Homo sapiens: one gene and its partners. The protein of the gene in region 3 purifies or fractionates together with the protein of the main gene of each other region. This does not show direct contact. Each region holds a gene or a part of one and is shown on either strand. Other genes may lie near its edges.

Evidence for each region.
Region 1: the proteins of SRPX2 (region 3) and NOTCH2 purify together in Homo sapiens (co-immunoprecipitation; one large-scale study listed by IntAct). This does not show direct contact.
Region 2: the proteins of SRPX2 (region 3) and C1QTNF9 purify together in Homo sapiens (co-immunoprecipitation; one large-scale study listed by IntAct). This does not show direct contact.

What each region holds. Positions count from the first base shown.
Region 1 is NC_000001.11:120,063,039-120,066,692, reverse strand, and holds part of NOTCH2 (neurogenic locus notch homolog protein 2 isoform 1 preproprotein), read left to right. Parts: intron 1-3,654. UniProt on the Homo sapiens protein: Functions as a receptor for membrane-bound ligands Jagged-1 (JAG1), Jagged-2 (JAG2) and Delta-1 (DLL1) to regulate cell-fate determination.
Region 2 is NC_000013.11:24,315,941-24,319,594, forward strand, and holds part of C1QTNF9 (complement C1q and tumor necrosis factor-related protein 9A precursor), read left to right. Parts: intron 1-41; 5' UTR 42-63; coding exon 64-229; intron 230-2,877; coding exon 2,878-2,940; intron 2,941-3,654. UniProt on the Homo sapiens protein: Probable adipokine. Activates AMPK, AKT, and p44/42 MAPK signaling pathways.
Region 3 is NC_000023.11:100,650,699-100,654,352, reverse strand, and holds part of SRPX2 (sushi repeat-containing protein SRPX2 precursor), read right to left. Parts: intron 3,569-3,654; coding exon 3,488-3,568; intron 1-3,487. UniProt on the Homo sapiens protein: Acts as a ligand for the urokinase plasminogen activator surface receptor. Plays a role in angiogenesis by inducing endothelial cell migration and the formation of vascular network (cords). Involved in cellular migration and adhesion.

The DNA of each region.
Region 1 (3,654 bases), on a different chromosome or scaffold from region 3:
TAGGCTTCTATGACATAGAGGAGCAACTTTTGGTTCACCTGGATTGTAGTTGCTGACTTCAGGACCTTTAGAGAATGTTTAAATTCAGTGGGATATGCTTGGATGGTTCAGAGCAGCCTTACAATACATCTTAAAAATATCACACCCACAGAAATTCTATTTTGCCCACAAAATTTGCATTGATCTAGTTCCCACTCTGTGTTGCCATTCCTAGTGATCCTCCTCCCTACCTCTCCCATTATGGTAGAAAAAACTCTGTGTCCTGGCTACATCAAAATCTGTTGGGGTGGATCTTGGACTCAGCACCCAGGGATTCTGATAAGGTAAGTTTGAGAATCCATATTTTTTCAAGGTTTACAGGTGATTCTGACAAGTAACTTGGTTGCAACCCACTGATTAAGTACATTTTTTTTTACCTTCAGGTGTGTGTATGAGGTCTTTCTAAATTTAAGAAATTTCCATAACAAATGTAACCTTAGTCATTCCAGTGTTTAACGCTTCTGACTCAAGGAATTTAAAAATTGCTAACGTAAGAGATATAGAATATAATGTCATTTCTTCTATTTATCTGGGTGCAATATGTCTGCATTGACCCTTTAGAAGGGCTTCATATATTTAGATGATATAATAAATTCTCCACCTCTCCTTTTCCCTTTTCTTCTGTTATCTCTTTTTCCTTAAATGTCATTCATACATGTTGTTTTTTGACCCTTTATCTATATACGTCTGCAATGATTTTAGAGTAAAAAACTGCAAGGCGTGATTTGAATAAGGATATAAGAAATTTTACATCATTTTCTTTATATTGTGTTCACAGTCCATAGTTACATGCTTCCTTTCTTGATGTCTCAGTTCGAATGCCTAAATTTGAACTATTGATTTTCCTTCCACCCTTTCCTGATTTTCCTGTTTTTGTTTCTCCCCCTTTCTCTGCAAATGACTTGAAACCAAAAGGTCTTCTTTTCTTTCTTTGTCAGCCTACCGTATGTGTAGTATTTTGGACAGATCACTGAACTAGGAGCCAGAAGACCAGAATTCTTCTCCAGGTCTGTTATTAATTGGTTTGGTGACCTTGTAGGAGAGCCACTGTTTCCGTCCTCCATTTTCTGATGTTCATTGTTCATGGTCACAGAGCCAATTAGAGTTGAGACTAGAATTCCTTTCTTCTGGTGTCCAGTGCCTCATTCACTGTCCTCATTGCTTCCATCTCGTGTACAAATGCGCTTATGTGCACAAAAACTCTTATAACATCCTCAAGTGCTTATTGTTAATGCGTACATGAGGAAGGAATCGTGTATTTTCATTTATGTGTTTATTCTAATGCCCATACCCTACCCCTGTACCTGGCATGATGCCTTGGTATCTAATAGGCACACAATAAATACTTGTTCAGTCGAACAATTATTTTTAGCCATTTTCTTATTTTGGACAACTGTGGTACTCCTAGACATTTTAAAAACAGTATTTGCAGGAGTCATGCTTACCTTACATTTGGGGAAAAACCAAATTTTTCCCTTCCCCAGATGTTTCATTTTAACTTGTAATTTTGAATTTCTTTGTGTGTGGGGTTTCTTTCTTTCTTTTTCTGATCACTTCTGCAATTTATAAAGGTCACTTTGACTTTGGAATCTCACTTCAAAGGCACTGCCATCCACCCCCTGCCTCTCACTCAAGTTTGCTTCCACTGCTTCCTGTATTACTGTATTACTAGGCCAGCAATTTCTGTTATTTTGTCCAGAATAGCCACACCTTATTGTAATTTCATCATTTTGGGGACTAGTCATTTTTGGAATACTATTTTTAAAATTAGAGTTAACTAAGTTTATATTTATTTTGATAATTTTTTTTGAGATTTTTTTCATTGAGTTGGATATTGCAAACTTGTACTGGATTGAGAGAATATGTACATTTAGTAAAGTATATTTGCTTTTTTTTTTTTTTGAACCAAGAGAGTCCCCTGAACACCCTACTGACAAAAACTAAAGATGAAATATGATGAATAAATATTTGAGAGAATCACATGGTGTTGAGTTGTCTCTGCCACATGATTTTGATCCTTGAGGGCCAGGTCTGTGCTACACACATTTCTTCTCTGTACTACAGAACTTGTCTGGCATGTGCCCCAAATTCAGAGTCAACTGAGCAGCAGGTCTTAGTCACAGCATCTATGACTCCTGCTTTCCCACCTTTAGAACATTCTATAGGAGAGGCTGATGGTGAGTTGGAGTGTGTTTCTATGTTCTTTTTTCCTTTGAAGAGATAGGATCAGTTGAAAGCTGACCCCACCCACAGACTTTTTTTGCTATCTCTTTTAATTAATTAAGGAGTGGCTGAAATTTTCCTCTTTGTTGACTTATGCATTGGCGGGAACTTTAAAATTCATCTAGTCTTTCTGTCCATCCCATGCTGGATCTGATGTTTACAACATTCTAGTCAAGAGGTACCATATTTTCTCTCTTCTTGAACATCTCTTGTGGTAGACAGCTCTCCACAGCAGTTTATTCCATCTTTGGCCAGCTCTAATTCTTAGAAAGATCTTCTTATATTCAGCTGTAATCCGTCTCCTCATGACTTGTCCTCATTGACATCTACTCAGAAATTTGTCTCAGAGTCCTGAGACCTGTGCAGGTGATAGGGACCCAAAGAGATGCTTGTCTGTAGACTTTACTGAGCTGACACCCAGCTCTCCATAAAAGGAGTCAAACCCAGTGAGGAGCATGTCTGAGGTGATTGCTCAGGTAAAGCATCTTAGCCCTACTTGTTTCATACCTCCCTGCACAGGTGGGCACTGGTGGGAGAATAACATTTATCAAGCAGTGTTTCCCTAACCTCTCTTATGATAAGAATAGCTCAGGTGTTCTCATGGAGATTCTGATTCAGTGCATCTGGAGTGTCATCTGGGAATTTGTGTGTTCAAGAAATAGCCAGGTGATTCTTACATTAGGAAAGTTTTAGAATCACTGCAGAGTGAATCTGGGAAATCAAAGTGTTTTTGTTTGTTTGTTTTTTGAGAGTATTAGAGACAGGTTGCTTTGGCTAGATCCTGTGGTCATTTTTCCCCCTTGGAAATGCCTCCTACTTGCTGGCCTCACTTAGTACAGAGAAGAAAGCTGCTATGGTATAAGGTTAGTAAAGTTGTTTTGTCTTAAAAGAAATTTGCGAAATCCAGCATTTTCAGACTTCTGTTTGTGTTGTATGACTTTGTTGTAAGCCTCCTTATTCCTCCATTAGAATGTTACCTGAGATGTTAGAATGCATAGGAGTTCCACAGCCTTTTTGGTGTCCACTAAAGAATTCTGTCCTCAGCCGTTGCAAATGGTGCTTCCTTTGAGGATTTCTGCTTCATTAGCTCATGAACACATATTTGGTGTCGGCAGTTTCCCTCAGATGTGTTAGTGTGGAGAGATATAAAGGTCACTCATTTCTGGCAGTCCTGCTTTTGGGGTTTCTGGGCTGCTGCAGCAAATGAAATAAGGAAAGGAAAATAAAGGAGGAATCTAGGGCTTCTTGAGCAGAACAAAACAATCTGCAAGAAGGGGCACAGGATTGCTCCTCTCACAAAGACACTTGATAATACTGTCCTTGATAGGAAGAAGGAAGTGGCTTCAGATCTGAAAGGATATGCTCATAGGCTTGAGACGGGACAAACTGCAT
Region 2 (3,654 bases), on a different chromosome or scaffold from region 3:
AACAAAGATTTCTCCTTTGGGTTTCTGTTTCCCTCTTTCAGTTCAGAGTCTGTCATCTGAACCATGAGGATCTGGTGGCTTCTGCTTGCCATTGAAATCTGCACAGGGAACATAAACTCACAGGACACCTGCAGGCAAGGGCACCCTGGAATCCCTGGGAACCCCGGTCACAATGGTCTGCCTGGAAGAGATGGACGAGACGGAGCGAAGGGTGACAAAGGCGATGCAGGTACTCACCTGACGGCTTCGGCTGCCTTTCAACTTCTCTCTTCATTCCTTTCATCTCATTCACTCATCATCTGTGTGATTTTCCACCTACCCACTCACACCCCATCCATCCATACATACATCAACCCAGCAACACTCACTGGAGCCTGACCCCATTCATCCATCCACCCATCTGCCCAGCAACACTCACGGGGTCTGCTCCATGCCAGACTCTGTGCCAGGTGCTGGTGGAGAGCACAGGGCAAGATCGCCATGACCCCTGCCCTCCTGGGTTCTCTCATCTCTGACACCGCAGAACATTTTCAGTAGTATACGATGTCATGGATCCTCCCATCTCAGGTGACAGGTATGATGGATTTTTGGCAACAAAAGGCTAATAGAGAGATCTGATCACGAATTATTTGGCAGCAAGCACCCAGCTGCAGTGCAGGTGAGAGCTAATACCGCATCATGCCATGAAGCAGGAGATGCGGAGTGACAGATGACACAAAAGGAGACGAGAATCTGAAACCATACAGCTGCTGCTTATGCATCTATATGACCTAGGTTGGGACCCTGTCCCAGGGTCTGGGGATCTGGGGGACAGGATTCAGCCTCTGGGAGGGAGATTTGCCAAAGCTGAGAAGTCCGAGTGGTTTCCATAACAACAACCAATAGACTTGGTTTCCGAATGGGGTACCATTCTTGAGGCCTGGTCTTGACCATAGGGTCACATATCTAAGGCATATGCAGAATGATCCATCTGGGTTAAGGGCACAGTTCAGTGGCATTACAAAAAAATATATCAAAACTTCTATGGACCTTTTTAAAGATAAGTTTGTGTTTCTAACACATCTCAGCTTATGGCATTTGGTGGCCTGATGATGTTTTGAGTGGGCTGGATGAAGCCAAGGGTCACCAGGAAGCAACATTCTTTCTAACCACCATCCTGCACATCTGCTCTGTGAGGTGTCTTCTCCTGGCTCACATCTCCAGCTCATTGACACTGTTCCAGTCCCCAGGTAGCAAACAGCCCAGTCCAAATGAATAGCAAAACCTTACCATTAATGAAATCAGGTCTTCTGCCCTCACACTGGGACCACAGTAGTGTGTGTGTGTGTGTGTGTGTGTGTGTGTATTGTATTTCTGAATATATAAGATTTTCATTTTTTGTTATAAAATTTTACACACAAAAGGAGATAAATAGGTGATAGATAAAAAATAGAGGACAAAGACAAACACTCCTATATTCAATACCAAATTTCTCTACCTCTTCCCTGTTGAATTTCTCTCCTCTTTTCTCACCAGTGTCCATTCTTTCAAGTTTTATATACTTCTTAGAAGCAAATTATGTATCTATTTTTCTACGTAGTTCATAGGTATTATATATAATATATATTACTTCTTAGAAGGATATTCATTCACATTGCTCACACTAAAAATTTACTTCATTTTTATCTTATCTTAAAGTGTATTTTTGTATATGTTTTATACCAAACATATTTTCCATATACTACCTGTGCATAATGTAGAAACATATAAATATCTACTGATTGGGGTCTGTGTTCATGCTTTGTGAGTTGTGGTTGCGTGATCATGAAAGCTCAGAGGCCACCGCTCTAGAGAATGGGAGAAACGAGAGCCAAGCAGGGAAACAAAAAGAGGGAAGGAGAGGAAGACACAGGGGAGCAGCCAGTGGAGGGGAGGGGAGGGGAGGGGAGCGCAGGGAGGGGCAAATGTAGGGATAAGCCCCCTCCATTCAGAGGTCCCACGCTGACCAAGGCCCCACTCAGGAGCGCTGGTGTCCCAGGAGAACAGACATCGTGACAGAAATAAGTCTGCCTGTGTCAGTCCTGTCTCAGGACCTGCAAGCCGGCCCAGCCTGCCCCTGTCGCCCCACAGCCACGTCAGTGGGTCTGAAGTATGGGAGTCTCTGCTGCTTTGTGAGAAGCCAGAGTCTGGGGTGAGCTGTGGCCCAATGAGCACTCTACTGCCATAGCCAGAGCCACCTTCAACCTGCTGACGGATAGCACGCCGACCTGGAGCTCAGGGGGGCCTGTTCTGAGCACAAGGACTTGAGTGTAGTCAGCAGAGCCCCACTCACCTGATGTTCTCTGCCAGCTTGATTGGTGGCATTTCCCCCAGTGTAAGGCACTAGAGGGATCCTTCCAGAACTCTCTCTTCTATCTTGGGATAGTGTCACGTAACCATAGTCATCTGTGTTTTCATAGGAGCCTAGTAAATCTTCCGTTCCACTCTCCTCAAGAGTAATGGAAGAGAAACAGAGTGAGGAAACCTCCTGGCACCTCCAACATTCAGACCACGTCCCAAGTCCTTGTCGCAGGAGAGGAACACAATCGTGACAGTCAGTCCCCATTGCACACACTCCCTCTTCGTCCTGTCTTGCTGTGCGCTCTAGGCACGTCCTAGAGATGGGCGCTTGGGAAGTCACTCAGTTCATTTCTTAGGTCACTTATCCCACGCAGCTCAGCACCCCAGATGCCCGCTCATGCCTGCCTCTCTCCACCTGCGCTTGTGTGGAGGACAGAGTGCCCGTCAGGGCGGGGGTCACCCCCAGACTCTCCAACACACATGGCTGATGGAGACCAATGGCCAGAAAAATCAGAAATGGAATTTCAACTCATGCCTGTTTTCTGCTTTTCCACCTAGGAGAACCAGGACGTCCTGGCAGCCCGGGGAAGGATGGGACGAGTGGAGAGAAGGGAGAACGAGGTTAGTAGTTCCTATTTATGGTGCTCTAATTCTGAGCTGTCGACTATTTAACAATATTACCATGGACAAGTCCTCCATGCTGATTATAATCTTACAATAAAGGCAACACAGTTCTTACTCTCCAGACGGGGGGATTCTGCAGGGATTGGCAGGCTTTGCAGAGGGCTGGGTAGTAAATATTCTCAACTCCGCAGGCCATACAGATCTGTCACCACTACTCAACTTCCCCTTGTAGTGAAAAGAAGCTGTAGATGCTCCATAAATAAGCATGGCTCTGTTCCAGTGACACCATATGTGTGAAGACTGAAATGGGAATTTCCCATGGTTTCCATGTATTGTGGAATATTATTTGTGACCATTTAAACATGCAAACCATGGCCGAGCACCATGGCCCACACCTGTAATCCCAACACTTTGGGAGGCCCAGGTAAGAGAATCGCTTGAACCTAGGAGTTCCAGACCACCCTGGGCAACATAGTAAGACTTTGTCTATACAAATAAAAAAAAAATTAGCTGGGCATTGTGGCACGTGCCTGTAGTCCCAGCTACCCAGGAGGCTGAGGTGGGAGGATCGCTTGAGCCTGGGAGGTTGGGGCTGCCATGAGCCATGATCTCGTCACTGCACTCCAGCCTGGGTAACAGAGTGGGTGACCCTGTCTCAAAGCAACAAAAAAACAAGCAGACAAACAAAACCCAGAAAAACAAAAAAACATG
Region 3 (3,654 bases):
AGGCTGGGGCCTCAGGTTGTACTTTTCCTGGCCACTCCCTCCCCCTCATCATTGCTAACTTCACTCAATTCATTTTATGCCCTGAGACTAAGTCCTAAAAAGAGCTATGAGACACTACACCTCCAAACCAAAGGCCCTTATGCAGCTTGTATTTCTCTAAAGGGCTTTCTGCTCATTTAAGAAGAACCAGTGAAGAAGGTTAATGTTAATAATAGGGCTGCAGACTCCATGAAAGTACCTTCTGCATCTGTTGCTTTTTACTAGCCACCTCTCCAAACTATAGTCTCCCATAATCTGGCTTCTGCTCCCAGGATGCTAGTGGTCAGCATCTACTTTTTACCATGGCTCTGTGAGAGTAACACACATGATTCCTTAAATACAGTTAAATACACAAATACAGTTAAAAACAGTTAAATACAGGAATACAGTTAAAACAGTTAAATACAGTTAAAAACAGTTAAATACACAAATACAGTTAAATACAGTCAAATACAGAAATATAGCTAAATACAGTTAAATACAGAACTATTTTCTTGAGGGTAATAAAAAGTTAACCAAAGAGGCAGTGCATAATGAAGGCCAAATGAGTGTGTCTAGACAGTAAACATTTATTTCAGAAGAGGTACCTAATAAGTATTCAATAAATATTCGATGAAAGAATAAATGGGCGAGAGAAAGCTCAGTGTGGGCTAAAGCAGTTGGGAACACAGTACTGAACACAGCCTGACCAAAGCACAGATTTCATGTGGGGAGAACAGGTAGGAAGTTGTCAGTCTGGGAAGCTAGACCAAGGCCAGATTCTGATTTAAAATGGTCATTGTGGGCCAGTAGGTTTGGGGGAGGGGGAAACATGAGTCAGATAATCCAGTTAGAGGCAACTGTATTATCCATGTGTGAGGTCAAAGTTTTAATCCCATGGATTAATAAAGAAATGACAGGTCTTGGTGACTGACTGGCAGGAAGTGATGAGGAAAAGGGGGCTGTTAAAGGTGACAGGACCTATTAGAGGTGACATTGAGGTATTTTGAAGTCCGAGTAACTAAGAGAATGATGGTAGTGTTATCAGAAGTAGGAAGGTCAGTAGGTAGAACATTTTTCAGGAGAGAGGAAATACTTTTGTTTTAGATATCTCCAAATGGAAGTGTGTAGCAGCAGTTGGAGATGTAGTCCACCAGCTCAGGAGACAGGTCAGGGTTGACCCAAGTTCAGATCCCAGTCTCATTCTCTCTATTGTCACCACCAGAGAGTCCACCTCCTTTCCCAGTTTCAGCTCTGACCAGAATTGTGAAATGCCATGGAGACCAAGGAAGGGGGATTAAGAAGAAAGGAAGGTGCTCACTGCTGCTGGAGAGACTGAGAGACAAGCTCAAGAAAGGGTCATGGGAATTGGTTCTCTCATGGGAGAGAACTTTTTTCTTCAAGAGATGTCATTTCAGGTTGTAGATTTGTGAGTGGGCGAGAAACAGACTGTAGAGAGTTTAGGAGTTAGTGGGTGCTGAGGAGAGAGGCAGTGGGTATGCACCATTTGGCAGGGAGAAGAACGTGCGTAGAAGGTAGCTACAAAGATGCTCAGAGGAGCTCAAAGCTCTGAGAATTTCTCAGTTGAAACTATTTTTCTTAAAGGTCACCATTTACCTCCTTCTTGCCAGATAACATCTTTCCTTTACCCTCAATTTGATTTCTTTGCAATATTTGACACAATTTATCTCTTACCCCTTCCTTTCCTTAAAACTCTCTTCTCCTGTGGCTTCTGTAATATGACAGGTACTGCCCAGATATCTTCCTACATGACTGACCACTAATTCTCTTTTTTTCCCCTTGCTGGTTCCTCTTCTCCTACTCATGTCTACAGATGTCTTCTAAAGCTCTGACCCTGGCCTTCTGCTCCCTCAGACAACCCATCTATCTAAGCTGATGACTCACACAACTTCATCCTTCCGCCGCCTGTAGGGCATCTTTACCAAACCAGTTTTCTTTTTTGACATTGTCTTTCTGAGAGGGGTCTTATTTCTTCCAGGTGTACAGACTGAGTGCTTTCAGACATCAGTTTGTTTCTTAGCCTCTTGGTACATCAAGTCTGTACTAAGTCTTGTCATCTCTTTCTTTGAAACATTTATGGGGTTCATCTGTACCCTCCATTTCTTTGCCACCACCATCAGTCATCTCTAGCCAACATTACTGTAGCTGGTTCCTGGAGAGTCTCCCTGACTCAGACTTAACCACTGAACCCCTATTTCTGCATAGAATAATCAGGTTAATGTTCTAAAATGACAATTTACTGTGTCATGCCTCTGTGCAAAAACATGTGATGGGCTCCCTATAGATCCTAGTACAACAGCTAAACTCTTCCACATGGCTTGCAAAGCAAAGAAACAAAGAATCAGAAATAGAAGGGATATTAGATACCACCTGGCCTAACTTCCCTTTTAATGCAGGAATTACTCACTATGCAGCATTCATCACAGATAATTTTCATGCTTCTCATTAGTATTGTCCCTAGATCATGGAGTCTTTCCTAATTTGGTCTCACTCTTTATATTTAACTTTTTTTTTTTTTTTTTTTTGAGACAGAGCCTTGCTTTGTCACCCAGGCTGGAGAGCAGTGGTGCCATCTCAGCTCTCGGCTCACTGCAACCTCCACCTCCCAGGTTCAAGTGATTCTCCTGCTTCAGCCACCTGAGTAGCTGGGATTATAGGCACATGCCACCATGCCTGGCTAATTTTTTGTAGTTTTGTTGGAGATGAGGTTTCACCATATTCGCCAGGCTGGTCTCGAACTCCTGACCTCAAGTGATCCACCTATCTCGGCCTCCCAAAATGCTGGGTTTACAAGCATGAGCCACTGCACTTGGCCTATATTTAACCTTCTTTGATACTACTCCCTCCATATTCCATTTCCTCCAATCAGGCTGGTTTCTTCTTAGCTCCCTCCTCTACCAGGTTTGTTCTTACTTCCGTATTTTTAGCCATCTGCTTTGCTGAATGCTCTCCCCTCCCCTTTCTGGTTCTCAAAATCCCACCTATCATTCTAAGCTTAGCCTAAATGTCATCTTTCATGACCCTTTTCCTGACTTCTTTTTCTTAAACCCTATTGCATTTACTGCTATGACATAGCTTCACACTTACTTGCCCTACATGTGCTAACTTTATACCCCCCCATCACCCCCAACAGAATATAAGCTACATGATGGGGACAAAACCCTATCTGAGACCTTGTATTACCCACAGGCTTACCTTGCACAGGATTAGGCATTGAGTAACTAGTCAATACTTAATGATTAATAATACATGGAGAACCTTCAGGCTGGAGAGGTGAGGTCACACAGTAAGTCAGTAACCAAGTTCATGATGAGAAATCACAGCCCCTGATTCCCTGTGCTACAGTTTTGACACATGTGAGCCAAGCCTGATGGGGATGCTTCAGGGAAGGGCCTAGGTCTGAGGCCAGAAAAGAGATTTTCTGGGCTTGAGAAGCAGGGTAGATTACCTCGGTAGTCCAGGGCAGGAGCCTGTGGGACCTCCTCTGCATATACTTCATTGTAGCTTTCATCCGGATAGTAGCCAGAACCTAGAATAAGGAAGACAATATCAAAATGGTGTCTTGATTTCTCACTCAATTCCTTCCCAACCTTCCCCCTCTCATCCAACTTTGTC